Homo sapiens: one gene and its partners. The protein of the gene in region 3 purifies or fractionates together with the protein of the main gene of each other region. This does not show direct contact. Each region holds a gene or a part of one and is shown on either strand. Other genes may lie near its edges. The genes, in order: SLC7A2, PLXDC2, ZFYVE27 and SLC19A2.

The links.
Region 1: the proteins of ZFYVE27 (region 3) and SLC7A2 purify together in Homo sapiens (affinity purification with mass spectrometry; 2 studies listed by BioGRID and IntAct, with this or other methods). This does not show direct contact.
Region 2: the proteins of ZFYVE27 (region 3) and PLXDC2 purify together in Homo sapiens (affinity purification with mass spectrometry; 2 studies listed by BioGRID and IntAct, with this or other methods). This does not show direct contact.
Region 4: the proteins of ZFYVE27 (region 3) and SLC19A2 purify together in Homo sapiens (affinity purification with mass spectrometry; 2 studies listed by BioGRID and IntAct, with this or other methods). This does not show direct contact.

The regions. Positions count from the first base shown.
Region 1 is NC_000008.11:17,562,855-17,570,760, reverse strand, and holds the end of SLC7A2 (cationic amino acid transporter 2), read right to left. Parts: intron 7,159-7,906; coding exon 7,050-7,158; intron 5,812-7,049; coding exon 5,615-5,811; 3' UTR 195-5,614; downstream 1-194. UniProt on the Homo sapiens protein: Functions as a permease involved in the transport of the cationic amino acids (L-arginine, L-lysine, L-ornithine and L-homoarginine); the affinity for its substrates differs between isoforms created by alternative splicing.
Region 2 is NC_000010.11:20,140,816-20,148,721, reverse strand, and holds part of PLXDC2 (plexin domain-containing protein 2 isoform 1 precursor), read right to left. Parts: intron 5,428-7,906; coding exon 5,305-5,427; intron 939-5,304; coding exon 820-938; intron 1-819. UniProt on the Homo sapiens protein: May play a role in tumor angiogenesis.
Region 3 is NC_000010.11:97,739,900-97,747,805, reverse strand, and holds part of ZFYVE27 (protrudin), read right to left. Parts: intron 4,713-7,906; coding exon 4,642-4,712; intron 4,214-4,641; coding exon of another isoform or gene 4,175-4,213; intron 3,078-4,174; coding exon 2,891-3,077; intron 1-2,890. UniProt on the Homo sapiens protein: Key regulator of RAB11-dependent vesicular trafficking during neurite extension through polarized membrane transport. Promotes axonal elongation and contributes to the establishment of neuronal cell polarity.
Region 4 is NC_000001.11:169,475,710-169,483,615, forward strand, and holds part of SLC19A2 (thiamine transporter 1), read right to left. Parts: intron 2,049-7,906; coding exon 1,446-2,048; intron 1-1,445. UniProt on the Homo sapiens protein: High-affinity transporter for the intake of thiamine. Mediates H(+)-dependent pyridoxine transport.

The DNA of each region.
Region 1 (7,906 bases), on a different chromosome or scaffold from region 3:
ACATCTCTTTCATCTCACAGGACTTGGTAGTCAGTCATACAGCAGGCCTTAGGCTGCCAGCTTAGTATTCTTCAATTGTTTCAATGTAGATTGCTTATATTTCTGAGCTTTAAAGATTTCCAAATAAATAAGGAGTTTAATTTAGGTAAGTATGAAATGTGTGCTTTTGGTATGGGTAACATCTGCATTCTATATTATTACATATTAAAATTTATTTTAAAAATACACCACATCAGAAAGCATATTTTACAGTGGTAAAGCAGCAGTTTTTATTTATTACAAATTCTAAAAAAGAATCCAACTTTATAAGTAAAAAGGAACACTGATGATCACTTAAAACATTTAAATTTAAAATTACTACTAAAAAAACCCTGTACATTCACACAAGTCCAATGCCTTTGTTGGTTTTTACAGACATAGAATTTCTGTAGGGTTTTGGGCCCTATCAACAATTTTTATTAAGTACTGCAATAACAAAATACAGCAATAAAACAACTGGACACTCCTAGGGGACACCAAAGATAAAGGGCCCATTAATCAGGTGTAGGCCAGAGAAACCCAACCTGTTGGCAATATGACGCTCTTTCCCAACTGGGTCTTGGTGAGACACGTGGCACAGCAAGGCTGTCAGTGCATGTGCATAAATTGTAGACCAGGTCCCACTATGCTACTTCAGGATTCAGCCAGCCCTTCTATGAGTCACAGAGGTCCCTTGGTCCTTATTCATCTTGATATACTCATGGGATGTTTGGAATTAAGGAGCCCAAACTACCTTACTTGCATTTGAAGTCTTTCACTTCATATCCTACCCCATCAGTCTAAGAGCCCACCCAACAAGGGTAGCTACACATAGATGCTCACACTCTATAGGCTGCCTGATCCTGGAACCAGCCTGGGGCCCTGATTATGATCTCCACGGGGCTGTCAGTGGCTAGGGAAAGCTCTTTAAGACCCAGCGATCATGGCAGTGGCATCAACCATGGTGAATCAAAGTTAAGTATAATGCTCCCAGCAAACAGTGTTACCAGTTGGGTTGAGCAATAACAAAATGCATTTGAAATCAGTAAGACTAAACCGTGTATATACAAACAATAATGAATATTACAAACACCAACAACCACAACAATAACAGATCAGGCTTCTCAAAATCCAGAAACCGGAAGGCTATTTTAAAGTGTTTAATATAATCATGTAAGGAAAAAAAATCTCCCCAAAACAATAAAGTCAAGCAATTTCATATCTATATGAACTTATTTTCATATCTATATGACTAAAAAATGAAAATGACCTTTGCTGGCATTATTGCTACGCGAATATCCATACTTTCCCCCTTGATATTTAAGGACATGTGGGAGAACTTTATAAACAAGTAAAGTGTGCAGAGAAGGCACTGTTTTGGCACTAGCAAAAAGGACAGTTAATTTCACATGAATCACGTGAACTTTAATAACGCATGATATACATGCTAAACTCAATCCTTTAAAGCCCTGCGGAAACTGTATTTTTTGTGGTAACAGTTGCTTGAAGCGTATTAGGAGAAATCATGAGCAGTATCACCGGAAAGGGAGAGTCAGAATCTTGGCATGATTTCATCACGCCAAGGTGTGATGTTCTGTAATCTCGGAACACACCCTGATTTAAGAGGAGGGAAGGCAAGGCTCAAGTGCTCCCTCTGTCATCATGGGTATTGGAGGCCGATGGCTTTTCCTTATGCTTCCTGCTAAGCATTTAAATAAATTTAGAAAATAGGTAAAAATAGATTCTAATTAAAGTGTTTTATTTTTATTTTTATTTTTTTTGAGGCAGGGTCTCACCGTTGCCCAGGCTAGAGTGCAGTGGCGTAATCTCAGCTCACTGCAGCCTCACTCTCCTGGGCTCAAGCGATCCTCCCACCTCAGCACCCCCAGTAGCTCTGACTACATGTGCATGCCACCATGCCCAGCTAATTTTTGTTTTTTTTGTAGAGACAGGGTCTTGCTATGCTACTCAGGCCGGTCTTAAACTCCTGGGCTCAAGCGATCAGCTTGCCTCGACCTCCCAAGATCCTAGGATTATAGGTGTGAGCGAGCCACCATGCCTGGCCTTAAAATTTTTTTAACAACTACCTGTAAGCACTCAGGACTTAAAAAGTATTTTGACTAATATTTAAAATTTTAAAGTTTTTAAAAATTTCTTTTATTCATAGAAATTAAAAGAAAACAAATAGTCTCTTATTTTTTAAAGGAGGGTAATTCTGAAACTAATATTTTCTATCAACTACGGCTGGTGATGGTAAAGTTCTATATATTAATGTTACTTTTTCATATATATCTCTCTTAAATGACACTTTGGCTTTCGTTCTCTCAATGTTTATCTCTGGGGAAAATGTGATTAAGATAATCAGTATTTTAGTATATATCAAAAGTTCTAATATAAGTTTTCCTCATAGTTTTTAACAGAGTTTGCATAGCTCTATTCTTAAATGTAGGACTGCCATTGCCTTTTGGTGGTAATTCACAAATTATTGTTTTTTTTTAAGAGTATAAAATTTGAGGTGCCATTACAAGAAATTCTCACTGAAAATGTTGAGAATATATTTCTTAATGTAGAAAAGAAAAGTAATTTAAGCTGCTTTTACTCAATCACAAAAGAATTTGCATATGTATTTCTTAATTACTGGAGAAGACTTTATATAATTTTGATTGATTACTAGTCAAAACTCTACAAAACATTTAGGTAATTCTGAGAAAGAAAAAAAAAATTTAGTTGAAAACATTATGAATTCACAAGCAGAAACAGAAAGGTGCCAAAGAGCTGGTGATACTGACTTTTGCTAATAAACACCTACCAGGACAGATCAGTCGGAAAAGGTGTGGCAGCAGCAAGTAAACAGGAATCCCCAAATGCCCCTACCTCTTCTCCATTCCAGATTACAAAGCACCTGCTATAATGTACTAGAGTTTAGTGATTTCATATTAGAAACATTATAAATACGTCTTAAAGAGTCTATAGGAAATATACATATAAAATCATAGTATATTTTAAAATAGTTTAAAAACTAAAAATTAGGTATAAGCATATCTATCAACATCAAACATCAATTTTTCTCCACATCAGTTGGGTTTTGTACCCACCTAATGACATAGTCAAAGCCCACCATAAACCCAACTTACTTATACACTGACGTTAGAGATACACACACACAGATATATATATACACTCATACAAACATATGTAACTGTTAACAAACATACAAACACACACATCCGTTGAGTCTTCACAGAAAAAAAGGCACAGTGGCTGACAAAGCATCTTTTCATAGATATTTGTGTCTGCAAAGTGTTTCAATGTGGAAAAATAATTTTTCACTAAATTCTGCTTCAAATTGAGCACAGTGGGCATAACAGTTTTAGCTGCCTATCACATTCTAAACAAGTTTCTTGGTTTCGTTACAGTAAAAGATTTGAGTGTTCATATATAACAATTGTTCACATTTCCTGTGTGAAGGGTCTATTCTTGATTGGGTATAGAATCAAACGGGTTTTCAGCGTACTGTGACAACAGCAAGGATTTATGAGCATGCCTACAGTCCCTACCAAAATACCCGAGCCTGTGCTTATCCAACTCCTTCTCTCCAGTAAACCACGCAGCTTGAGAGAAAATTCTGGGCTTCAGATTTTACCATGTGCACCCTGGAAGTTGTGGAATGTCCGTAATGAGTTCTGTGTCATGGATGCTATAACGCTAGCAGCCAGAAACCCAGGCTTTCTACCTGTTTCTTTGATGTTTAATCACAATAAACTCCTGGCTATACAAAACCATCGCAACTTGCTTTTTAATGGCATCAATAAAATAGCTCATTTCTTGGAAGACCCATGAGGAAAACGAATGTTTTCCTTGTCTTGGGATTACACGGGCCAGCTAGCATGCCTGGTAATGTTCACCATGCTGTCCTGGGAAATGTCACCCAGCCTCATCCAATGAACTATTTAATGATTTGTACGAGAAATAGTTCATGAGAAGCAAATACACTGCAAATAAACAGTCCACTATTAGGGAATCCTAAAAAGTAAAATATGACAATTAGAGAATCTTACATGTAAAAATTTGTTTACTCATTTACAAGGGTTAACTGTGTTTATATAGCTTTAATTCAATTTGATTCTTTTTAGTTTCCAGTTTTAAATAATCATGTTTTTTAAACCAAAATGTTTGATTCCCCAATCACTGATGGGTTATTGTATAACACTGGAGCTTGTATTATTAGGCTTAGTGTAGTCATTTGAAAGCAAATGGAATAAAAAGTGCTACACAATTTATGGGGTAGGGGGAGAAAAATATTCCTAAATGTTTCCAAAGGAAACATCAGAGGCAAATTAGATCCAAAGCCCTTAAATTGGGCCATTTGCCATTTAACAATGGAACAGGCCGTTCCTATCAGAACAGGGGGATTTTCTCTTCTTCTATCCCTTCATCTTTCCCTCTTTGCATGATGCTGCTGTAGCCCCCTCATCTCTAAGACAAGACAAAAGAAACAGAGAAACAAAGAAGTGAACTCTGGGCCTGACGAGGTTAAGAAAAAAACTAAACTGTGATTAAGTAAGTAATGGAAAAAGGAGGAATCATTCCACTAGTTGTGTGGTCTGGGAGAGTCTGTTGGCTTATTTTAAGTCACTTTTTAGAAAAGGATGCTTGGGGTCTACTTATTCAAGCATTGGTCTAACTCTTTGATCTTCAAACATATTCTCATTACGGCCACTCCATGAGCTTTCTGGCCCTGGTGACTATCTTCACTTTTTAATTTAAAGGGTCCCAAGTATATCACAGTGCCTCTCTTAAGTCCCTGACTGGGGATACGTCATTCACAGCAAGTGAAGACCTCGTATTTTAGGACCACTGTTTGCAAAGGAGACAAAAGTTCAAAAGGATGCCAACTAGTGGCATGGAATGCCACTCCTGGCCTGTGTAGTGCAGCAGAAGCAGACACCCCTGTTGGCTGAAGTTTGAGCAAACTGTCATACCTCACAGGAAAAAAAATTTGCATTAAACCCACTGTTGGCATTCACAACTTATTGAAAAGTCTCTTTCCTTATCCCCTCATCTTACCCCTAACCAGTGACAGACACCATGATGAGTAACTGCATTTTTGGCATCCCCTAAACTGACATTAATGAAGTCAAACAAGGTAAAGCTACTAGTATTTCCCCAACTGCAGGGGGCATAGATGAAACCTCTTTACATTCAGTGATTTCCCTCTATTTCAGTATGTGCAGTATATGCCACCGATTAATGACGACACTGGAAAAATGTAACACAATAATAGTAAAACACCAGCTAACTTGTAACACTCATGTTCCCAAGCATATACATAGATACATACATACACACATACATACACACTCCCACTGTTTGGGGGCTATTCATCACTGATGAATGAAACTTCCACTCAGGAGGTTTCCCCGTGCACATAATTCACCATCTGAGGAGATGCTGTCCAGATGAGTAAGTATAAATTAGGGTGAACTATGTATGCAGCAAACCCATGACAACCCAGCATGCTGATGACATCCCGTTACGGTTTACTCAGTGTAGGATATGTATGCTAAGACGATGACCAGCTCTGCTCCTGCAAGTGTTAGAATTCACTTGTCTTTTCATGGAATATGAAAGGTGAACTGAGATTTCTTGGGTGATGGTCATTTGCTTGAATGGCAGATTTTTCTTCTGCTGCTGCATGAACGTTGTCTGGATAAGCATCTTCTTCATTGTTTTCATCTCTCAGATGACCCTCCAGGCTGTGTCTAATGCCATAAGAAAAGTAAATCAGGAAGCCTGTTGGGGCAGGAAAAAAAAAAATCAATGTTTCAGGTATGTCAGAAAATGACTTTTAAGTTATTGAGGTGGAAAATGTAGAACTTAATAGAGTTTGTCTCTTTCCTTTCTGTAGTACTTTAGAACGGGGGTCACCAACCCCTGGGCCACAGACCACTATTGTTAGGAACCAGGCCACACAACAGGAAGTGAGCAAGCAGTCTCTAGTATTTACAGTGTATTTACAGCCACTCCCCATTGTGAACATTACCACCTGAGCTCTGCCTCCTGTCAGAGCAGGGCAGCATTAGATTCTCACAGAAGGGACTGCACACGTGAGGGATCTAGGTTCCATGCTCCTTATGAGAATCTAACTAATGCCTGATGATCTGAGGTGGAATAGTTTCATCCCCAAACCATCCCCCACCCTGTCCATGGAAAAACTGTCTTCCACAAAACCCGTCCCTGGTGCCAAAAAGGTTGGGGACCGCTGCTTTAGAAGAATGAAATGCAAATGTAAGATACCCCACAGAAGGTGTCCTTGATCAATATTTTCCTGGTAGAATGTGCCTCTCTATTGTGAAGACCCAAACTTTATAGACTGTATTTTGCTCTCAACAAGTTTTTCAATGTTTATATGGAAAAATTTTAATTGATGTTCTTAGAAGTCAATACTGTACTTTAAACAAAATGATATGTGGAATAAAGTCTCAAATTATACCCTAAATACAAGTGGTGAGTTATCAGAGTCAAGATCAGATATTTTGCAAAGTACACTCTGTATTAACAAAGAGGACACGGACATGCTTTACACGTGTCACTGTCACCAGGAGAGTCCGAAGAACTGTATGCAAAGCAACTGTTTATTAACAGCCACACTGACTGTGTGGGGATCAGGAGGCAACGTTTTAAGTACCCTCCTAAGATCACTGCAGACATGTAGGCATTTTGCTGTTTTAGTTCTATTTTAGAAAATTGGTTGTGAGTTTTGGGTTGATATAAAATGACTTTTTCTGGGTTTCATTTTTTTCACCCATAAGTAGAAGGAAATAGAGCCTACATGGTTCTACAGGGTTAGTGGGAGATACTGACTTAAAAAGGCATCTGAAAACATCTGGAAAAGCACTCGGACATCCCTAAGAATTAGGAAAGAAAGAAGCGGGAAAAAAAAGCCTTTATTCCCAGGATGGGGGAGAGGGCATGTTTCTCTCATCACAGCACATGAAATAGGAAAGAGAACCCGACATTAAAAGACCTACCAATTGCCATCCAAATGCTGAATCTGACCCAAGTGTCTGCACTTAACTGGACCATCAAGTAAATGTTCACCAAGATGCTGAACGCTGGCAAAAATGGTAAGAATGGAACCTGAGGGGGAAAACAATCCTTTTGAACATACTCATATTTTGAAGCATATTCCCCAAGTTATTTCAACAGGGTGGCAATTAATTTGGCATATATACTTTCACACCACGTCAATCACAGTTAAAACCACGCTTCTAGAGACCATAAAAGGAGAATCACATCTTAGAGTATTTACTAAAGCTCAAGGCACCAGGGGATTTATCAGATTCAGTAACACCTGCACAATCAAAATAATATTGGTTTTAGGATTTAGCTTTCTTTGGGGTTTACTGATTTCATTTAGACACACAAAGGGGAGACCTCTGAAATGTGGGATACATATGGTTATCCCAGGTACATCCTCCCAGGAAGCCCTCTTCAAACCCAAGCCAGTATACGGTTAGCTCAAATGGGACAGGATAGTTTAACTTGCAGTGGAGGAGCTTATCTTTTTAATGTTCAATTTAGTTTTATTTTATTTTTAGAGACAGTGTCTCACTCTGTCACCCAAGCTAGAGTGCAGTGATACTATGATAGCTCACTGCAGCCTTGAACTCCTGGGTTCCAGTGATCCTCCCACTTCAGCCTCCTGACTAGCTAGGACTACAGGAATGAGCCACTACACGCAGCTAATTTGTTTGTTTGTTTTGTAGAGATGGGGTCTCGCTATGTTGCCCAGGCTACACTTGAACTCCTGGCCTCAAGCAATCCTCCTGCCTTGGCCTTTCAAAGTGCTGGGATTACAGGTGTGAGGCACCACACCCAGCCCAAG
Region 2 (7,906 bases), about 78 Mb from region 3:
TTAATAATGCTCATTAGTAATTCTCACAGTTCAGGTTTCTCTCATAATTAGAGACTATCTAAAACATTACATTTGTAGTTCCTGGAACTTTATTTTTATATTCTTAGTCCAACAGGCCTTACTTACTTTGTCAGAAGAGTTGGAAATCAAACACACAGTTATTCTAGTCTAAATATTCTGTAAATTTAAGGCTACAATTTAGTAAATTTTCATTCTTTACTTTGTCAGTTTGTTAAAATGAAACAAACCTAAGTTTAAATTTCCTTGTTTTTTCTGTCACTTAGGTCTCTAATTAATCTTTCCTATCTGGTTTCAACAAACATTAGCCAAAGCACAGCCATCCTAGAACTCTCTCAGTACTGGGTCCTTGAGCCACATAAGTTTTCGTGTCTATAAATGCTTTTGAAATTAGAACCAAAATATAACAAAGAAATCAACCAGGTGAAAAAAAAAAAACTAACTAAAGAAAATACGTAAATATAAACATTTACATTTAGATGAGAAATCCCTCCAAATTGAATTTTTTTTCTTAGAGACATTTCACTCTAATTACTCAATAATTAGTCAATATAATTACTCAATAATTTTATGAAATTGATGAGTCCTGATGCCAACAATATCAGAATACAAAAGAGCTAACAATCAATGCACCCAGAAAATTAAAACTAATCAAAACATTTTTTATTAAGCAAAGGAAACCAAGAGGCAAGAAAATGATTTGAGGATCATGGCTGTAAAATGTCCCTTTCTTGACATTTGGAGGAAAGGCAGCAGTCAAGAACAAGGGGAAGGGAAAGAAATTATCAACGCATCACTTACTTCTTTGTATCCAAAGATGATTCGTCCATCCATGAGCAGGGTTGCCTGGAATGTGAAGCTTCCCAGGTTATAATTATCCTGGAGATGTACATGGTCCCACTGGACCACAAGTGCTGTGCCTATACACCCATTGAAAAAAGAAGAAATGCAATGAGAAAAACATACCAATCAATTCTGGTGGGAGTTTTCACAAAAATGTTTTTGCATCTGGCCTTCAAATCTGGTAGTTGTACTATTTCGATTTTATGTGGTTAATCAAATTCTGTTATTGAAATAGCATTTGGGATTTTTTTTAAAGGATTGAGTACTCTCTAAATATTTAGTAAAATAGAACCTCATACTAAGGTCAATAATTGAGCTAATGCAGTGTGGGGGAATTTTGCCTTAGGAATTTTATTAATGTTAATAGATACTGTCTGCTTAAATTTCCATAAGCCACTTTCAAAATGCAGCCCAAGTGGATTGAATGAACTTCAAATACATTTGACAAATGCTGAGAGAGAAACACATCTAAAAAGTTAGGACCACATACAAAAGACCTGAAAATGTCTTTTCCATACTTAAAATTATACTTTTCCACATTGAAGGAGTTCCTTTAACACTAATGGGAATTTTCTCCTTGAGTTCACAATGCTTGTATTTCTGTCTTTGTTGTGTTTCTTCCAGGAAGCTGTAAGAAGCTCAAAGGGCCCTGGACTAAGATTTTTGAAGTCCCCTTGAAGCACACTGGGATGAAACTTCAGTGCTGTATATTATATTCTGAATCACTCTGTCAGTGTTTACCATAAACGATTGGGCATGAAATAAAAACTGAAACATAGTTTAATAGTCACCAGTGAGAATTCAAATTTTTGTTTTAACTGACATTGTGTACTCTCTTTTTTTAAAAAAAAAGAAAAGAAATGAGCTGCTAAGACTTTTTCTTCACTCTAAATATTAGATTTTTCTGTTTGGTTAGAAAAACTGTTGCCCAAAAAAGTTGTGCTGAAAATGAAAATCATAGAACTAAAAGAGCAAATCTTATCTCCCAGTAATAAATATCTGATATATTTAAAAATTACAATTGCATGGAAGAATTAATTTTCAGTAACTATTTGGTGCTATTAGTAATATCTCTTGAGCTGGTTGACAATTTTAAATAGACACATTATTTCAAATATTTTGAACACCCAATTGTAAGTCCTGAAAGGATGTTGAAGTAAAGAAATGTATTTCTTTTGAGGCAAAACTTTAAAAGTAAAAAAGAAAAAAAAGTTTTTTAACTTGACCTTGGTGCTTTTAGCCATTATCACTGCTGTGAGTGAAGACCACTCAGGTCTCTTCCTTCCACGGGCATCTCCGTGTCTATATTGTCCTGAGGGAGGGAGGGAGGGAGGGAGGGAGGAAGGAAGGAAGGAAGGAAGGAAGGAAGGAAAAAGAAAAGAAAAGAAAGAAAGGAAGGAAGGAAGGAAGAAAGGAAGAAAGAAAGAAAAAGAAAGAAAGAAAGAAAAGGAAGCAAGGAAGCAAGGAAGAAAGAAAGGAGGGAGGGAGGAAGGAAGGAGAAAAGAAAAGAAAGAAGGAAGAGAAAAGAAAAGAAGAGAAAACAAAAAAAATAGAGCAAAAGAAGACAGTAGCCAGGAAACCTCCCATGATTTTATAAGTATAGGAATTTTCTGATTGTGAAATGCCTCCTAACTTCTTTTTCCTTCACACATGTCTACAACCCTCAAGCTCTAGTCTATTCCTTATTTTCTAGTTTCTATCGCACTCTGGTGATGCAGTGAAAACAATGAACCAGAGGGCAGAAGACTTAGACTTGCATCTTGTCTCTATAAAACTTTCCATGTGAACTTGGACACAATTAATCTGCATGAACCCGTTTCCTTTCCTATAACATGGGGAGTATAGTTTTTGCCTTCAAGACATTCCTGCATTAAATACAAGAAAATATACTTACGCTTGATTATTTATGAAAATAAGAGGGCTATATAAATTAAAGTTTTTAATGCCAATTCTGAGGAAGGGATTCCTAATATTTTGTTAGTAGCAGGTTGTTAAAAACCACACTGTTGACCAGGTGCGGTGGCTCACAACTGTAATCCCAGCACTTTGAGAGGCCGAGGCAGGCGGATCACGAGGTCAGGAGATCCAGACCATCCTGGCTAACACGGTGAAACCCCATCTCTACTAAAAAAAATATTAAAAAATTAGCCGGGCGTGGTGGTGGGCGCCTGTAGTCCCAGCTACTCGGGAGGTTGAGGCAGGAGAATGGCATGAACCCGGGAAGCGGAGGTTGTAGTGAGCAGAGATCATGCCAGTGCAGTCCAGCCTGGGCGACAGAGTGAGACTCCATCTCAAAACACAAAAAACAAAAAAAAGTGTACTGTTTGCACATGTTAAGTTTTATATTATGTAATAGCATAGCTCTCTCAACATTTGCTGATTTAAATTTTCTAACCTGCTGCTGTCTTTTCCAGAGAAGTTTGCTTTCCTAAATTGTTGAGTTTCCAATCTTTAAGTATCCTGTCAATGATTCTAACTAAACTTGAAAATATTTCAGCAAGTTGTTGTGGTATTAAAAGGGCTTCGTGAAGAGTCTTACAGTGTTTAAAAGTGTTTCATTCATTTAATAAAACGTAAGTTTTCATTATCATATTGTTTGAACTCAATATTCCTCAATATTTGATTCCTATGGAATAAGTCATTACACAGAAGATATTTCAGTGGGTAAACAATACATGCATTCTTGAGTATTAATACTTTTACAATTCTCAGACATAAAACTCACTTTACGTATGTAATTATTTTTATTCATTCATTGAATAATTATTTAGGACCTACGTCCTAAATAATAAAGTGTCTATGCAGGGTACTGGAGATAAAATGATTTCTTATAGCCACAGTCCTTGTTTTTAAAGAACTTAAGAGTTCAGTTGGAGTAGTATACATCAATTTTTAAAAATCATTCAAATACGAGTAAAATTCAAATATTAAGAGCTACCTAGGAACAAGGTATATGAAAATATATGAAGAGAGACTTATTTAATATGCTTTATGATTTTGATAGCAACAGTATAAAAACTTGGTCATTAGAATCATGTGCCCATGAGTAAATGACCCTAACATCACCTAGTGAATGTCGGAGTTTGGAAAATAGTCAGTGTTCACTAAATCATTTATTGTTTCCGTAGGATAGACTCCCAAGGCAATTTTGCATGGTAATCATAGAATAAGTTTCAGATAAGTTTCTGGCTGCAGTTTTGCCTCAAGAATAGTGTACTTACAGTCCACTTGCACATCCTTGGGTGTTAGCACCTCATGAGTTTTTAAAAAATGGAAGAGAAGAGAATATAATAGTTCTTAAAATAACAGAGATGAATCATTATTGCAGCTAACACTTAGAGTTACCTAATATTGGATCATACCTTGGTGTTACTCAAGATGTTCAACGTGTATTTCCTAAGGTGAATGTCTAACTATGTTTAGTTTCCTCATTGTGCTATTTTGACCTGTAAAATGGCTTTCATCACACTGGTCAGGAGATGGCTCTTAGCAAAGTGATCATATTTCTCCAAGGCTACAGCTACCATCAAGTCTATTCCAACCATGAGCAAATTTCTTCCTTGATCATCAGAAATAAGATAAAAGTAGAAATAACTCTGTTCACCCCAAATGCTTGTATTATTTGCAGGCATAAAATTGTCTTTTAAACAAATAAATATCATTTTTGAATGATAAATACACAGAAAATTCTATATTTAATCATTGCAATATAAACTCTTTGTTACCTATAATTTATTTTCTCTACCAAAGTTACAGCTTTCAATAAGATGTTGAGATGAAAATTCATTTATGTCTCCAAGACCTTGAATTTCTCGCTTGGATTTTGGCACCACTTAATGATTTATTATAGTTTTTTTCTCTATTTTATATGTCCCAAAAAGTAATAGCAGGGATACATTGCTCTTGGTATATTTGATAAATCTTGACAGGCTCTCACTCATTTTCTAAAGTCAAGAAAACTTTATTTTCTTCAGTTGAACTACCCACAACTAACTACTTTATACTTCTTAAAATATGTGTTCATCTTATTGATACATACAAGTCATAAGTTTTGGAAATTTAATGTCAATATATTATGGCACTTGCCTCAACTGGAAGATCAGAACTAACAAAATTATTCTTATTTCCATTTTTTTCTGATGGGAAAATTGGAAAACTGACTTATTGAAATAGCATCAAATAAATGCGTTTGCTTTGTCTGAGGTCTTGTCTACAGCAACTCAGTTTTACTGTGTATAGTAGATGTTAATAAATGTGTTGAATGAATGAATGCCATTTGTGTACTTTATAAATCTTAGCAGTATAATATTTGTCCTCTCAGACCATTTGCATCAAGCAGTTTACACACCAAAAAATAAACAGTTTACAAAAACATTAACATGAATCTGATGCTTGAGGTTTAAAAATATACATGCAGCAAAAAATAGGCTACTCAACACATACCATTATCAAAATATCTGACAGTTGAATTTCTGGATACACTGGGATCGAAATTTGCCATTAAAGGTGCTATGTACTGTGTGGCTGTTAGCATTCGATGTACGACTTCTCCAGTGTATATGAAACCTAGAATTAGAAAAATAGGAAACATATTCAGAAAAAGAAGCCCATATAAAATTATGATTAAAATACTTCCAACTCAATTACAGTCATATTATGAAAATAAAATGTCATGGTAGCTGGAAAAAAAGGAACATATTTAATATCTTAGTATCTAATTAACAATACTTGGTCTGGATTAAGTAACAAATTCTTGTATAATTTGGTAGAACCTTGCAAATCCGAAATCTATAACATGTACAATTTTAATTGGGGGGAAAGTGACCATTATCTGGATGAGATTATTAGGCTAAAAATGCTAATACAGTATTATAAGTAATTCAAATATTCAATTTGCTATTATTAATCCCTTGTTATTTTAACAATAGCTTACCACACAAGTCCTTTTAATTAGTGAATTCATTTTCATGGTATTTATGTAAGCTACCATCTCAGCATAGGAATTTTAGAAACGACATCTGGTAAAATGCAGAAAATGTTTTGATTCTTTTTTTTTTTCTTGAAAGTTGAAAGGGGGCTAAACACCCATGGTGACGTTTTCAAATTGTTGGTTTGCTCAAGCCTCTATATTATCAGCACACTGTCAAGAAGATAAAGTCTATATGTTTGCAGGTAAGGTGGTAAAACATTGACAATGCACAAATGCCTCTCTATTTAGAGATTTAATCAATGCCAGTCTATTCTAGCAGTTGGATAATGAGAGGGAATTTATTATGGAGAACTTTGGCTTTGAATTAACTTTCAATAGCTCCTATGTTACATGTCTAACCCACTTTCAATTATTCACACTAGGTTTATTTACTTTGTGGATTATCCATGACAAATTGTTAATCCTGTGCTGGCTTCTTGCTTTCAAGGTCTTTAGCTGTCTGAAAGGAGAGTCAGCTCAGGGATTGCTAACTAATTTTAATATTAATCTAAGAAATACACAATTGAGATTACACATGCAAATGCACACACACAAATAAAATGCAAGGCAAATTATTTGTGACAATGCAATTGTAATGTTTGGGCAGTCATCAGTTAATTAGATACCCGACACTAATATAAATCATTTTTCTACTTTCACAGGAATTAATAAGATAATAATATTTAAAGCTCAAAAAATGTTAAACTTTGATCACTCATTTTATGGTCTGAATAAATATTTCATTGGCAGATTGCAGTCTTCATTGTTTCAAATTCAAAATTGTGATGTCTAGGTAAGTTATTGCAGAATTAAACCTGTAGTTATTTACTTAGAAATTAATTTCTCTCTTTTTGGCAATATCTTCTTTCCTTTGAATACCTTTTAACTTTTCATCAAAAGCATAATTGAACTCTAGCTATTCATCTAAAAAAATTTTTAACTGTAAAAATCTTCAATGTGTACTTTTATCATCATGACTTTTTGTTTCTTATGTGACTCCTTGTTTCTTATTTGCCAAGCACTATCTTTCAAAACAAATACCTGATGCTTTAAGCAGAATTTTGTACATTTGTAATTTCACACAGCTCAAGCATATTAAACATATTATGGTGATTTGGTCATTGCTTTTATTATATTTCCTTCTAGATTTTCAGAGTCATACTCCTAATATTCAAAGTGCAATATTACATCCTTAACATTATAAATATGAAGAGTAACTCTTTTCCAGGGTCTCTATTTTTTCTCCTATCCTCTCCAGCATGCATTTATAATTTATCATTAGAATGAATACAAAAATTCTATAGATACCATCTCTGAAGAGAAATGTTTGAATTAGACTCTGAAAGTGTTATTTCAGAGAAAATAGCTCCAAGTAGGTTATTTTTCTTCTTTATATTCTCCAAGTACAAATAGAAGAAACTGCTTAACTTGGAGGATGGAGGGCAGTTATTCAAGGAAGGAAGATAATTTTAAATAAATACAAAATCCATTCTCCAAGACAACTTTGTAAGAAGAACAGCAGCAATCCCTAGAAATACACTGTTGCAAAATGTAAGAGCATTGATGATTTCAGACACTTCAAACTTACTGTTAGTATTTAAGTAAATAAGATATATGTACTTTCCCCTCAATGTTTCTACATAGATTTGCCAAGAAACTGCTCCCACTCTCAATAACCCAATTTTTAAATCACAGAAACCATTAACTGTTATTTCTTTTGATCGGGAAAATGTTTCCCAAATCTACAATTTATCAAATGTCAAAGGTGAAATTTCAAATTGTTTCCAAAGAAGTAAGTAGAAATACAGAAGAATTTGTTAACATGTAAAAGCCATAGATATGGTTTTTAATTATTTTATTACTAGAATATTAAAATAAGTTATGTCACTATGAGTATTACGGTTGCTACAACCAAAATGAACAAGAAACTGCCACCACAATTATTAGCATGTCTGGCACTACTATTACTACTACCACTATTAGTACCACCACCACGAAGACTTAACATGAAAAAAAAAATAAAAACCCCAAGAAGGAAAAAAACCCTACTACTCTACAAAATGAGTTTAATTTTAC
Region 3 (7,906 bases):
ATCTGAACCCAGATCTGGGTTTCTGAAGGGAAACCAGGAAACATGGAGATAAGCTGATTCCAGGGCTGGGGCAGGGAAGTATAAGATGAATTTGACCATCCTGTTGTACCATAAAGGAAGCATTCAAAAATGACAGGGACCAATGCAAACAAGAGCCAACTCAAAAGAGCTCCTACTGGCCAAATCTAGGACAATTTGAGATCAAAATAAATAATGATAGTAATAGATTCTAACTCATCAAATAAAATATAAATCTATGAGTTCATACTGATAATAGTAAGAAAGAGCTTCCTTATAGTAGAAAGCCAGCTAAAAAAATGTCGATAGAATAATTAGAAGATCATCTTTGCAACCATCATAGTAATAAACTGATTAAGGCAAGACCCATCAATGGATTTTTAAAGCAGTGGATAAATGTTTGATGAGGAACAAGATATTTACATAGTCTCAAAGTATCTCCCCTCAAATTACTACTAATGAAGAGTAAAATGATAATTTACAGTATGGATGCCTTAACCAAGTGATCAAAGTCAGTATTTCCTGACATCAGGTGCCTCCTGATACGGATGTACTGAACATGACACATCACTTGTCACACTCTAAATCTGATCACAAGGAACCAAACAATCCAAAAATTAGGGAGATTCTACAAAATAATAAGCTTGTACTATTCAAAAATGTCAAGGTCACAAGAAACAAGGACTGAGGAACTGCTCCAGATTAAAGAAGACTAAAGAGACATAAAAAAATTAAACATGATGTATAATCCTGAATTGGATCCCAGATCAGGGAAACTGATACAAAGAACTTTATTAGGACACCCACACTGGCTCACACCTGTAGTCCCAGCACTTTGGGAGGCTGAAGCAGGAGGATTGCTAGAGCCCAGGAATTCAAGGCCAGCCTGGGCAAGACAATGAGACCCTATCTCTACAAAAAAATTGTTTTAATTAGCAGGGTATGGTGCATGTGCCTGTGGTCCCAGCTACTCAGGAGGCTGAGGCAGAAGGATCACTTGAGTCCAGGAGGTTGAGGCTGCAGTGAGCCATGATCATGCCACTGCATTCCAGCCTGGATGACAGAGCAAAACTCCGTCTCAAAAAGTAAAAAAAAAAAAAGAAAAAAGGAAAAAAATTAATAAAAGAAGAAAAAGAACTTTATTAATACAACTGGTAAAATCCGATTACGAATTATACATTAGTTATCAACGTTAAGTTTCCTAATTTTGATTACAGCTCTGTGGATATTTAAGAGAATGTCCTTGTTCTTAGGAAATACACGCTGAAGTATTAAGTCACGTTTGCAACTTACTTTCAAATGGTTTAGGAAAAAGAAAAGAATATGTATATGTAGAGAGATAGACGAAGCCAACATGGCAAAATGTTAATAATTGTTCTATCTGGGTAAAAGGCATTCTTGGTATTATTCCTGTACTTCTTTAAGTTTAAAACTATTTCAGGCTGGGTGCGGTGGCTCATGCCTGCAATCCCAGCACTTTGGGAGGCCAAGGCAGGCAGATCACCTGAGGCTGAAGTTCGAGACCAGCCTGGCCAACATGATGAAACCTCATCTCTACTAAAAATACAAAAATTAGCTGGACATGGTGGCACATGCCTGTAATCCCAGCTACTCTGGAGGCTGAGGCACGAGAATCGCCTGAACACAGGAGGCAGAGGTTGCAGTGAGCCGAGATCACGCCACTGCATTTCAGCCTGGGTTACATAACAAGACTCTGTCTCAAAAAAAAAAAAAAATATATATATATATATATATATATGTGTATATATATATAAAACTATTTCAAAGTAAGAAAGTCTTTTTTAAAAAAACTACATATCCAGGCCCCACTCCAGATAACTGACTCGGAATTTCTGGGGTGAGGCCCAGCCATCTGTTTGTTTATAACTTTTCTTGCCCCTATTCTATTTCAAGAGAATGCAGAGACCCCACTCCAGGGAAGGGAGGTGTAAACGTCCACTGCTACTGAAGTTGTTAGATGAATATTTTTCAAGTCTTAAAATGCTTCCTCAGAAGTACCAGCTCTGTCATGTTTACGAAGTTTCTCCACAGTGTAGTGATGATAACTAATATCTACTCAACACTTCCCCAGTACAAGACACCTGTTCAATCTTCACAACCACCTTCTGAGTAAGCCCTGTTATCATTCCATTTAACAGATGAGAAACTTGAGACACACAGAGGCTAAGCAACTTGCCCAATGTTACACAGCAAGTAAATGGAAGAGCTGGGATTTGAACCCAGGCAGTGGCTTATACATGCACATGCTTAGTCAAGACCCTAAACTGTCTCTCCAGCAGAAAGAACAGGGCCAGGCGTGGTGGCTCACGCCTGTAATTCCAGCATTTTGGGAGGCCGAGGCGGGCGGATCACAAGGTCAAGAGATCGAGACCATCGTGACAAACATGGTGAAACCCGGTCTCTACTAAAAATACAAAAAATTAGCTGGGCGTGGTGGTGTGTGCCTGTAGTCCCAGCTACTTGGGAGGCTGAGGCAGGAGAATCGCTTGAAACCAATGGAAGGCGGAGGTTGCAGTGAGCCGAGATTGCGTCACTGCACTCCAGCCTGGACAACGAGAGCGAAACTCTGTCTCAAAAAAAAAAAGAAAGAAAGAACAGAAGCTGTGAAAACAAACAGCTAGATCGAGATTCTCATCCCAGCTTGGCCACTTTCTAGCTAAGTAAGTCAGCCTTTTTCTTTACCCATAAATGGAAGATGTTAATATTAACTACCTCCCGGAACTGTTAAAAAGGTTAAATGAAGTAACAGCTGTGGTTTGCCTAATATGATGTCGAGCACACAAAGCTAGCACTTAGTGTCATGGCTGCTGTTACTGTTCCCCCACCTCCCTGGCCTCTCTTCCATACTCACAAGCTCTTCACCTCAGCCACGGCCTCGGGACGAGACAGGCGACCTCTCTGCAGGTCCTCCTGCCTCACGCTATGATACTTCCTCCGCATCAGCTCGGAATCAGGCAGCCGTGCCCGGCAAACCTCCTGAAGGTAGCCCAGCAGGGCGGGCACTGAAATCATCAGGGCACCTACTGAGTACCATGCACCTGCAGAATCAAAAACACTGCAGGTAACACAGGTAAGCAAAGACCAGGAGTCGGCCCACCCAGACGCCCACTGCTTGTTCCTCACCTCCTCCAGGGCTCTGCCAGTCAGGCCTTCCCTGATAGCTCTGTACGACACAGTGTCTCACCCCTACTCTCCAGCCCCCTTAACCCAGCTTCATTCCTCATAGACCTTATCACCACATGACACATTGCAGGCATGTCTGTTGTCTCCTCTAATGAAGTAAGCTCTTGAGGGCTGGGACTTTGTCCCTTTGGTCACTGCTGTGGCCCCATCCTCACTTTTAATACGTTTTAAGATGCTGCTAGCACAGAGGAGGCTCACGCTGGAGTGTGACTGCCAGGAGCTCCTGATGCCTGACACTCGGACCTCTGGGCCACTAAGGAAGCTAGAAGCCTTTCGTTCAGCTTTTAGGACACTGCAGACGATTGTGCCTTGAGAAATGGCGAAGCCGAGATAAAATTCAAAGAAAGAACTTCTTCCATGTAACATGGCACCCCAACAACAAGCTAACAGAGCAGCGGGCCCATAATAAATGCTTACTAAACATCTGTCATAGGAACTGACTTACTTTGGGAGCATATATAGAAAAATCAAACATCCTAGGAAGTTTTGAACAGGTAAAGATGAGTCCAACTAAGAAACAGAAAATGAGATCTTATATGAACTGGATTTATTTTCAACCTACTCAATCCCTATCTCCAGAGGAAACAAAGAAGACACCTGAGAAATACAAGGTAAGTAAAAGAACAAAAACATGAATAATGGCCCAGCTCCTCCAAACATTCTGTCCCAGACTCTTTATTCTCACCCTGAGGGGTTTGGCTTTTTATGTGGCCATCTGCCAGCGCCAACCACGGATAGGGTAGGGTCACGGTATGCACTGTAGTAAGAGGTTCATAGAAGACATTACCCATGACCCCAACAGACACCCATGTGTCCACACTTCTATCTCAAAGGCTTCATGCCACTCCTCACTGCTGGTGACTGCCCAGCAGCTCCCGTTAGGCTCACTAGCTGAACCAGAGAAAAGCAACAGATATGGCAAAAATCCCTTATCAGCTCCTCATCCCAGTACCTTTACTCATGCCATGTCCCCAGATGACCCTTGAATCAGCTTAAAAACCAAAATGGAAAAAGGTCAATGCATCCTCAGCAGGAAGTCAAGAAGGAAACAACGATAATACTGAGAGCAGCTACAATGCACTGGCTGCCTCTTCCACGCCAGGCACTGTGCTAAGTATTATGCCTAGACTGCCGCATTCCTCACAAATACTCTAGGAGGAAAGCGTCATTTTTATCCTCCCTCTAGAGGTAAGGAAAATTAGGCCTTAACAGGGAAGTTCAATAATCTGCCCAAGGTCACAGCAGGCAGCTCAGCCTGGATCGTCCCTCTGGAGGCTGTTTCTGACTCCAAGCAGACACAGAGGAACACTAACTCCAGGGCAACAAGAGCAGCTCCCACACATAGGGTGGGGCTGCATCCAGGTGTTCTTCCCCCACATTCGTTCACAAAAACCACTGGCCCCTGAAGGCAGTTCTTACCCTCATTCAAAGTGAGGAACAAGACGTTGAGGCCCAGGCAGGTCAGCAAGGAACACAAAGGCATCTGCCACCTACAATACAGAGAGTCCTGATCACTACAGAGAGTCACTCCTCCAGCTGGGGAGGGGAGACCAGGCAGCACAGACGGGACATCAAACCAGAAGAGGAGGCCTGGAACACAGAAGGTCAAGGAGAAACGAAAAGGGGGCCTCTCACTTGGACTGGTGACCAGGAGAGGCGGTAAGATGTCACACATTAGCACCTGGGGTGAGGAAACTGGTAGGTCTGTAGTGCTTTCTCCCAAAAGGAAGAAGAATTTATAAAATATCAGTTAAGAAACCCAGTTAATACCATTTAACCTGTGTTTTGTAAGGTTGTATTCTCCTTAAGAGGTGACACTGACAAATGTTCTTAATATTTTCCTCTATTCTTTTTTTATAATTTCATAAGAATATATAATCATTGCACAAGATTCAACTAATACAGAAATCAAGAAAAAACAAATTGTGGACTTCTTTGGCCCCATTTGTGCCTTTATCTTCTTATGTCCATGTTTTTGAAAATTTGAGAGTTTATCTGAGAGTTTATTTTGAATACCTATTAATTCAAAAAGAGAAACAATAGTAAAGATTTTATTTTAATATATTAAAAATCAAGATGAAAGTAGGGTGCAGCATTCACTTAGCAATCACACCTTAAGTGAGCTGGAACAGACAGAAGCAAACACAGATACATCACTGCCACCACCACCACCACCACCAAATGGCAATGCAGAAGCCCCCAAACAGGGAACAAGGAAGACCAGAGACTCAGATTGCTGAGAACAAGCAAATGCTGCTGGCTCCGTCCCTGATAAAGGACATTTAGTAGGGAAAGAGGAGCACAGATGCAACAATGAAGCCACGACACCCAAATTCTAAAGGCAGTGTCAATATATAGGTGAGCCACTAGGAGAGAGACAAACATCAGAAAAATAAACAGGTAAATTGCTGGCAAGCATTGAATGTATTTTCTTTTTTTTTTTTTTTTTCTTTTGAGACAGAGTCTCGCTCTGTTGCCCAGACTAGAGTGCAGTGGCACAATCTTGGTTCACTACAACCCCCGCCTCCTGGGTTCAAGCGATTCTGTCTCAGCCTCCCTAGCAGCTGGGATTACAGGGGCACGCCACCACACCTGGCCAGTTTTTGTGTTTTCAGTAGGGATGGGGTGTTTCACTATGTTGGCCAGGCTGGTCTCAAACTCCTGACCTCAGGTGATCTGCCCACCCTGGCCTCCCAAAGTGCTGGGATTAAAGGCGTAAGCTACCGTGCTGGGGCTAAATATATTTTCTTGTGCTCTGGAGTATTTCAGAGTTACTGAATGAGGTTAACTAATTCATGCAGGGCTTTTACTTTTTTTTATTATTATACTTAAAGTTCTGGGATACATGTGCAGAACGTGCAGGTTTGTTACGTAGGTATACACGTGCCATGGTGGTTTGCTGCACCCATCAACCCATCATCTACCTCAGGTATTTCTCCTAATGCTATTCTTCCTCTAGCCCCCACCCCTCAATAGGCCATGGTGTGTGATGTTCCCCTCCCTGTGTCCATGTGTTCTCACTGTTCAACTCCCACTTATGAGTGAGAACATGTGGTGTTTGGTTTTCTGTTCCTGTGTTAGTTTGCCGAGAATGATGGTTTCCAGCTTCATCCATGTCCCTGCAAAGGACATGAACTTATCCTTTTTCATGGCTGCACATAGTATTCCATGGTGTATATGTGCCACGTTTTCTTTATCCAGTCTATCATTGATGGACATTTAGGTTGGTTCCAAGTCTTTGCTATTGTGAATAGTGCTGCAACAAACATACATGTGCATGTGTCTTTACAGCAGAATGATTTATAATCTTTTGGATATATACCCAGTAATGGGATTGCTGGGTAAAATGGTATTTCTGCTTCCAGATCCTTGAGGAATCGCCACATTGTCTTCCACAATGGTTGAACTAATGTACACTGCCACCAACAGTGTAAAGGGGCTTTTACTTTTTAATGAAATTTATGAGTAAGGGAATGAAATGACATCTGTGTCTTTCTCCTGAAATTCAACACACTCCACCTGTACCACCCTAATTACGCCTCAGAACCTCTAGTGGCAGCTACCAGGGTAAAAGCGAAATAAAAGCCAATCCCATTTTGGAAATAAAAACACCACCACTCAAGTCACTTTCATTTTAAAGCCTCTTCCCTTCTATAAAATGTCTTTACTGACACTTTGGTCCCAGGAGACCCAAGCAGTAGAGTAGCTGATCCCAGGAGAGAGTCTGTTAACAATTTACTGCAGCTCTAGGCTTCAGACCTAATAGCCAGAGCCCAAGATTAGGTCCCTCTTCAAAGTCAAATCCTCTTTACTAAGAAAAGAACAATCAAAAGCACAAACTAACGTGACAGCCACTTTCATGGACCAGTGCTCCCTCTCCCAGCAGCACAGAAACTGCAGGCTCCTGGGGGCTTTTAAGTCCAATGCTCCTCCTGCATCCTGCTTTAACCAATCCTACCACATCCTCCAATTTTTAATTCCATAAAATGGAAAAACCCTAACACATTAGTGTGCTAAGACGCACTACGGACTAGTAGAGGAAAAGGAGACGGGCAGGACAGGATACACTTAACTTTCGTACTTTGCCACAAAGAGCAACACACACATACAAAGAATGTGCCGGGGGCACAGCCTCTCTCCTAAAGAAGACCAAACTTCACATCATGCTGAGATTATAAAAGGAGAAAACAGCCTCTCCTCATACTGTCTCCCTACCCCTTGTGGGAAGAGCACAGTGATCTTACAGTAGAGAACACAGCTCTGGAACACTGACTAGCTCACCTCTACGGATACAGACATAAATTAGGTGAACAAGAAAAATGTAGGGCCTTTGCCAGAGAACTAGTAACAAAACATCCACTATTTCCAGACTGAGGCATGGATAAATACTCAATGGCATCCTCAGAGGTTAACGTAACTCCACTCACCCTGCTTCCTACCAGTCTCTCTCATGTATTTCAGAGGACTGAGGGTCTTTATGAGAATCTGATGAAAACCAGAAGCTTTTCCCTAGAAATACACACATGTGCAGACACATAATTTTACATGCAGTTTCAGGGGATTCACTGATCCCTAAAACTCACCCATAGGCTCCAAGTTAAAAACCTCTGCTCTTTAGGACAATCAGGTTTTTGTGTGACTCCTGATGCAATGCAACACCAGGGGCACAACATTTACCTTTGCA
Region 4 (7,906 bases), on a different chromosome or scaffold from region 3:
GGTCATTCTGACAAAAAGTGCTCACAGGTGCCCTGGTAATCAAGGTGAGTTTCATGATGAGGGTTGCCCAGGCTCTACAAGTCTACCCAGGCTCTCTGGGATGATAACCTAAATTTCAAGTAGTAATTTGAGAGCTGAAGAACGGGGATAGAGAAAAGAGAGTAATTTTCAATGAGGACATTAGATGCCACATTTAAACAATTCAGTTAACTCTCAGTAGAGAATGAAAGACTTTACTCATAATGGTTCTTTATTATCAGCCAGCCTACAAAGCTTATGGAGCTCAGTCCGACTGAGGCCACCTACAAAGCTGGAATGTTAATAGGCTTATTTCCAAACATGTCCCAGGAAAACTAAGACTACAGTGTGGCTGGAATTAACTTTGTTCCTCACAGCTTATAACCTAATAGAAACAAAAAAAACACTTGAATATTTAAAAAAAAAAAAGGGTGGGTGTCTAGGGAAAGGAATTCATCTTCCTGGCTAGACAGAACAGATGGATAAATTATTTTAATGCCATACCTCTCTCTTCCAAGAGACAGCTTCATAACACACTTTTACTATTTATTCCATCACCACCTCAAACTGTCCTCTTGTGATCTCTTCGTCTGTATTATTCATTACTACTTCACTTCAGCAAATTGTCATTTGAAAAATAAATAACAGATATCCCTTCTAGCACAGAAGAGGAAATTAACTTCTTACCCTTAAATACTGTGGGCTTCATGACTGGGTGCGGTGGCTCACGCCTGTAATCCCAGCACTTTGGGAGGCTGAGGCTGGTGGACTGCTTGAGGTCAGGAGTTCGAGACCAGCCTGGCCCACATGATGAAACCCCGTCTCTACTAAAATACAAAAATTAGCTGGGCGTGGTGGCGAGCGCCCATAATCCCAGCTACTAGGGAGAGGCTGGGGCAGGAGAACTGCTTGAACTCTGGAGGCGGAGGTTGCAGTGAATCGAGATCGCACCACTGTTCTCCAGCCTCAGCAATAGAGCAAGACTCTGTCTCAAAAATAATAATAATAATAATAATAATTTGGGCTTCAATTCAGAAACTAGAAGTAGATACTTAATCATTTATTAGAATCATTTCATCTACTCATTTAGCAACAATTTTCTGAGTGCTTTATTTATATGCCAAACACTCAAAAGATGAAGACACAGCCCTTGCAATCCAAGGCATCTCTGACATGAACAATATAATGCTGTATCAGTCTGACTTTGGAGGTCACGCACTCCAGGAAAAAATAAATGTGTCATCCCTAATATAAATAAACCATAGCTTGAATGAATGAATGAATGAATGAATAAAGCAATAAACCAACTCAGGATAAAACATGAATCCAAATAAATACAAGATCTACCAAGAGGGAGTTTGCTGTTTTTTTCACCACGGGTCCAGCCCCCATAGTAGCAATTACAAGATATTTAAGGCTGAGCTTACCGGTTCCTCCACGGGAGGCTCCTCCATATTTAGAGGGATTTTTGACTCAATGTCCTCCCAGCCAGGAAGGTGGTTAGAAGCTGGGGTGTCAGTAACAATGCCACCATTTTGTACCTTGATGCCATTCACTCTCTGGCAGGTAGAAGGAATGTGGTGAAAGAAGAGGCTCTTCTGTGGCATAGGTAAAAACCAGGCCACAGCAAAAGCCACTGAAACACAGGTAAGAGAGATGACATTCAGGCTGAACAGCGACCAGCCTGCCACTGAGACAAGGATTTGCCCTAGGACAGAGCCCACTGTAAAGCCCACCAAAGTGGCACTTCGACAGTAACTTGTGACTTTCTGGTACATGCCCAGGTCCACCACACTGTAGATATAAGAGTAATAGGCAATTTCAGTGGCTGTGGCGATGCCATAAAAAAATTCTAGAAATTGAATGGCCAGCAGTCCCTGGGCATAGAGCAGCATAAACCATGTAACAATAAGGCTGAGCCCCTGCAGTAGAACAACAGGTTTATAACGGAGGTAGTCTGTGGCAAGGAACACAGGAAACAGTAGCACCAGGTAAGAGTAAGTCCATACTGGATAAATTTCATTGAAGACCTGGTAGAAAGAGAAAAAAAAAAAACAAAAAACATTAGTGATGAAAGGACCTGGAATACTCATAAAGAATTTATTCATAAAAAACAACCTACAAATACCTCAAAGATCTCAACCTTGACAACAGCAGTTCAGATAACTTTGAAAATGTCTTTTCTCTCTTTTTTGTTTGAGATGGAGTCTTGTTCTGCGCCCAGGCTGGAGTGCAGTGGTACGATCTTGGCTCACTGCAACCTCTGCCTCCCAGGTTCAAGTGATTCTCCTGCCTCAGCCTCCCGAATAGCTGAGATTACAGGGACCCACCATCACGCCTGGCTAATTTTTGTATTTTTAGTAGAGGTGGGGTTTCACCATGTTGGCCAGGCTGGTCTCAAACTCCTGACCTCAAATGAGGAGCCTCCCAAAGCGCTAGGATTACAAGGGTGAGCCACCTCGCCCAGCCTGAAATATCCTTTCCTATCCCCAATACCATCATCTTTTTCCTAATAAATTCTTCCCATTAATCAAGGCCTAGTTCAAAGACTTCCTTATTCAGAAAGACTTTGCGGAAGCCAAAAGTACTTGTATTACAACATTCAAACCCTTTTTTTTTTTTTGGTTTTGTTTTTTGTTTTTTTGAGACAGGGTCTCCCTCTGTCACCTAGGCTGGAATGCAGTGGCAGAATCATGGTTCACTGCAACCTCCGCCTCAGGTGAGGCTCAGGTGATCCTTCCACCTCAGCCTCCCCAGTAGCTGGGACTACAGGCCTGTACTACCACAACCAGCTAATTTTTTTTTTTTTTTTTTTTTTTTTTTTTGGTAGAGATAGGGTTTCACCACGTTACCCAGGCTGGTCTCAAACTCCTGGGCTCAAAGCAATCCACCAGCCTCAGCCTCCCAAACTGCTGGGATTACAGACATGTGAGCCATCTGGCCTAGCCTCAAACTCTCCTAATACTGATCTATATGCATCAGTTTCCCCAATTAATTCATAATACTGGCTCTTCACCATGGCTGCATCTCCTAAGAAGCTTTAAAAAAATGTGTTAGCCAAGCGTTGTGGCACATGCCTATGGCTGCTACTCAGGAGGCTGAGGTGGGAGAATTGCTTGAGCCCAGGAGTTTGGGGCTGCAGTGACTTATGATCACACCACTACACTCCAGTCTGTATGACAGAGCAAGACTCTGTCTCTTTAAAAAAAAAAAATGCCCAGCCACAGATATTTTCTAAAAACTTCCCAATAGAGTTTTAAATGAGCCAGAGTTGAGAACAACTGCCTTATAGGCTTTTTAAGGATAGACCCCTACATTCACCTGTATAACCTGTCTAAAAGCCAGCATACTGTTTGGAAGATACTATTCAATAAATGCTTTGAAAACGGAATCACTGTCAATTCTTACTTCTAGACACAAGATAGGGAGCCTTTATCCTACTGTTTCATTAAGCTTCTCTGACTTTAAGTTTTGTTTCTTTTGGGGCAGAGGAACAAATAAAGATGGTCAATGTGTCCTACAGTCTTGACAGAATTAAGTCTCTCTAGATGGCAGGAATATAGGCAACTTTTATGTCCTTCTTTTTGCTTGTTTTTAAATAGAAAAAAGAAGTTTTTGCTGTTTTCTTTCTAATGCATATTTTAAAATTGGGATATAGTAGAAATGATCTTTAAAATAAACTTTAAACCAGAAAGACCCCAACAGGAATTTCAGTTCCATCACTTGCTGTGTGATTGTAGACAACATTCTTTTAGTTCCCCTTAGCCTTAATCTCCATTATCAGTAAAGGGCGGTTGTTTGTTGCAAAAAGTAAATGAGACACAACATGTAAATTACTTACTCCACCTGATTTATTCACAAAGTCTGAAGACTAGAGGACAAGCTGACAAGGACATCTGGGGCAGTATGAATTAACTAAATTAATTGAGCTATCATTCCCATTCTTCCAACAACAATCACTGTAGGAGATTTTTCCTTCCTTTTGTCAGTGGCCTCAACTTTTAAGTGCTTTTTGAAAGGTAGTTTTGGTAAAAGGCTGAATACTTTGTGATGAAGCAACCTAATCCCAGACTTTTACATTCTGAGACCAATAGTAACTTTCTTTTTATCTTTCCTGTACATCTCAGTTCACTCAAGTCTAATATGAGCTAAGGTTCTAAGGTTTTAGGCAAACAATAAAAAATTGTTGCAAAATCTCTTGCCAGTGCAGAGCATAGCTATAAAAGTAAAACATAATCCCTGTTTTCTGAAATACATTCCAGACAAAAGTGATCTGTTTAATGGCCTCACCTTCATGAATTTTGGTCTAATTTGTGTTGGTAAATCAGTTAGCAAGCTCCACTTGATCAGGAAATTTTGTTGCACCTGACTATGTGCCTAAACGAATAATCAAGAAATGTAGAAATGATTCGTATTCAAAACTGTGGAAATTTTAGCAAATGAGGAAAAAAGTGCCCTTAGCTGCATTAAATAACTCTAAGTAGAAAACCAAAGCAGGTAAGGGTAATCTTGAGATTTCCAGTTGTGTTCTAATTAACAACTTGTCATTCCTTTGTGGCCTATACTTTTACAGATACTATCTGTCAGCTTTCTTTTTTTTTTGAGACGGAGTTTCACTCTTGTCACCCAGGCTGGAGTGCAATGGCGTGATCTCGGCTCACTGCAACCTCTGCCTCCTGAGTTCAAGCGATTCTCCTGCCTCAGCCTCCCGAGTAGCTGGAATTACAGGTGCCTGTCACCATGCCGGGCCAATTTTTTGTATTTTTGGGAGAGACAGGGTTTCAATATGTTGGCCAGGCTGGTCTCGAACTCCTGACCTCATGATCCGCCCGCCTCAGCCTCCCAAAGTGCTGTGAACCACCGCACCCAGCCTGTCCATTTTCTAAAGTTTGAAACTGCCTCCTCTGTTTGACTAAGTGTCACCTTCACAATTTCCCCAACATAGCACCATGAAGTACTAGCCATTAAACCTTTCCTTTAAAAATGTCCTCTACTGCTCCCTTCAATAGTTCATCTTCCTTTGTTTTGGGATTTTGGATGACCTCTTCACTCCAATAATATTGTCTGTGCTTAGACATGTTACATAACTTTTAACCATAGTTGTCCCAAAATGATTAACTGCTAAGTTTTCATTGTCTAAGTTTCATCCTTTAAATTATCAATTTAACGTATCTTTACTCATGAGTCTAATTCTACTATTACAAAACTACAATTTAGATAATGAAGATGGAGGAGAGTAACACTGCCAACCTTGCAATAACAACTAAAAACAAAAAGAAAGGCAAATAGGGGAGAGGGGGAAGACCAGATAGTTTCTCTTTAACTTATTCTAAATAAGAAACCTGCATTTTCTCCTTTAAAAGACATCAACCCAGGGGGAATGCCCCACTCACACTATTATCAGCATCATAATAACAAACCTCTACTGCTGTGTTACACACCACGCTAAGCACTTTCTCTAAATTCTCTCTATTTAATCCAAACCACAAACCTAAGGTAAATGCTTCTATCATCTCTATTTTACAAACAAGGAAACTTGGCCTTAAAGAAAGGTTAAGTGAATTGTCCCAAGTTATCACAGGATTGGCAGAAGAAGGATCTGAATTCATAAATTCTGAATCCGCCACACTAAAATGCCTGGTTTCTTCAATCAGAAAACTGCTATTAATCATCTACTATCTTCCAGGTTAATTCTAATGCTTGCAGTAGCTTTTCCAATCTGCACTGAGGTGCTTTTACAGGGCATTCATGAAGAGATAAAGACTACAGTCTCCAGCACTTAACTAATGGGTCTCCAAGGCAGATCCTTTTCTTTTTCAGTGTTTCCAATGACAGCAAAAAATGCTTCCTTGATATTTTGAATCTTGAAGGGAAACATCCTACAGGCAAAAATGTACCAATTACAGACCCTTATTAATTGTCCATACTCCAACTTCTCACTTCACGTAACATCTGCTATGTGAGCAACGGGAATTGATTTTATTATGACCAAGGTGCCTTTCACAACTCTTTGGATCAGTGCTTGTGTTTTCTTGAGCTACAAAGTCAAGGGAAAACAGATGTTCATTTTTAAGTTCTAATTTAGATTTAGGCTTTAAATTAGAATCAAGTTTCAATTAAACAACTAATAGGCAGTTATTTGCACAACATTGTTTTCAACCAGCACGGAGGTGACAAAAAGAATAAAATGGCCAGGCGCAGTGGCTCATGCCTGTAATCCCAGCACTTTGGGAAGCCGAGGTGGGTAGATTACCTGAGGTCAGGCGTTCGAGACCAGCCTGGCCAACATGGCAAAACCCCATCTCTACTAAAAATACAAAAAAATTAGCCGGGCATGGTGGCGTGTGCCTGTAGTCCCAGCTACTTGGGAGGCTGAGCCAGGAGAATCACTTGAATCTGGGAGGCAGAGATTGCAGTGAGCCGAGATCACGCCATTGCACTCCAGCCTGGGCAACAAGAGCGAAACTCCATCTCAAAAAATAAAAATTAAAATTAAAATTAAAAAATTTAAAAAAAAAAGAATAAAATAAGGCTAGGCACTGTAGCTCATGCCTGTAATCCTAGCACTTTGGGAGGCCAAGTTGGACAGATCACTTGAGGCCAGGGGTTCAAAACCAGCCTGGCCAACATGGCAAAACCCCGACTCTACTAAAAATATAAAAAATTAGCTGAGAGTAGTGGCACAAGCCTATAATCCTGGCTACTCAGGAAACTGAGGCATGAGAATCGCTTAAACCTGGGAGGTAGACGTTGCAGTGAGCCGAGATCGCACCACTGCACTCCAGCCTGGGCAACAGAGCAAGACTGTCTCTAAATAAATAAACTGAGATCCTCAGCTCTCCAGGAGTATTGAACCTAGTGAGGAATATATAATATATGCAGTATTTATAATGGAAATAGGAAATACAGGGTTGTTTCTTCAAAATGGACCTTGAAGGATGAGAAACCTAAAGGCTAACAAAGATATCAACAGATATATATGGGAAGATTATTCCAAGAAGAGAATAAGTCTTTGAGTACATGTCAACAGATGAGACTGTGGATATGCTGGACTTAAGACTATTAGATTAATATGAATGGAGCTTGGTTATGTGGAAGTGGTAAGGGGAAGAAGGTTTGTAGTAGGATATAAGGCTGTCAAGGAGGTAAAAACCAAACTTCGTGAGGCTCTGAATATCAGGCAAAATAGGTGGAATGTTTAAAAAAATCTAAGAAAGGTAGTAAATGTCTGTCAAAACACATGCTACAATGATGAAAGGATAAAAAAGTTTTTAGAGATAAAGATCTGTTTTACTGAAAGTCTGGCCTTCAACTATTAACATACAGTCAAATTTTAGCCTGCTTAAAACTTACACACTGGTATCTGTTTTAAAATTAATGCTTTTCCTGAAATCTAAGAAAAAAACTTTTGAGAGTAGACAGAAGAAATCTTTTTCTCCTCTCCTTTTGTTTTAGGATTTAGTTAACAATAGCTCTATTCAAACCAACTTGGCCCTTCTGCAGTCTTCTAAGAGCAAATACAAACTTTAATACAAATGTCGCTGAATATGACTTAGCATTAGCTTTGCTTAAAAATCATGTAATTTTTTTTATTTAACTGTCCATGGCAAAAAACAAGCATTCAGTAAGTAATGAATAAGTTGTTCTATTTATTTCAATTATTAGTTATACAAAAAAACGTAGGGTTTGCCACAAGGTAAGCAGAGGAGAATCAGCCATGATTTGGTGGTCCTCTGAGAAGACACCCCTTCCCCAGACTACTAGATTTCTCTTCAAATCCCACGCTTTTCCTCAACTAATTTGCAATAAGAGAAGTACACTTATGTTTTTTGTTACACAATCAGCAAATAGTTACTACGCCTGGCAACTCTGCTTTATTTCTGTGCCC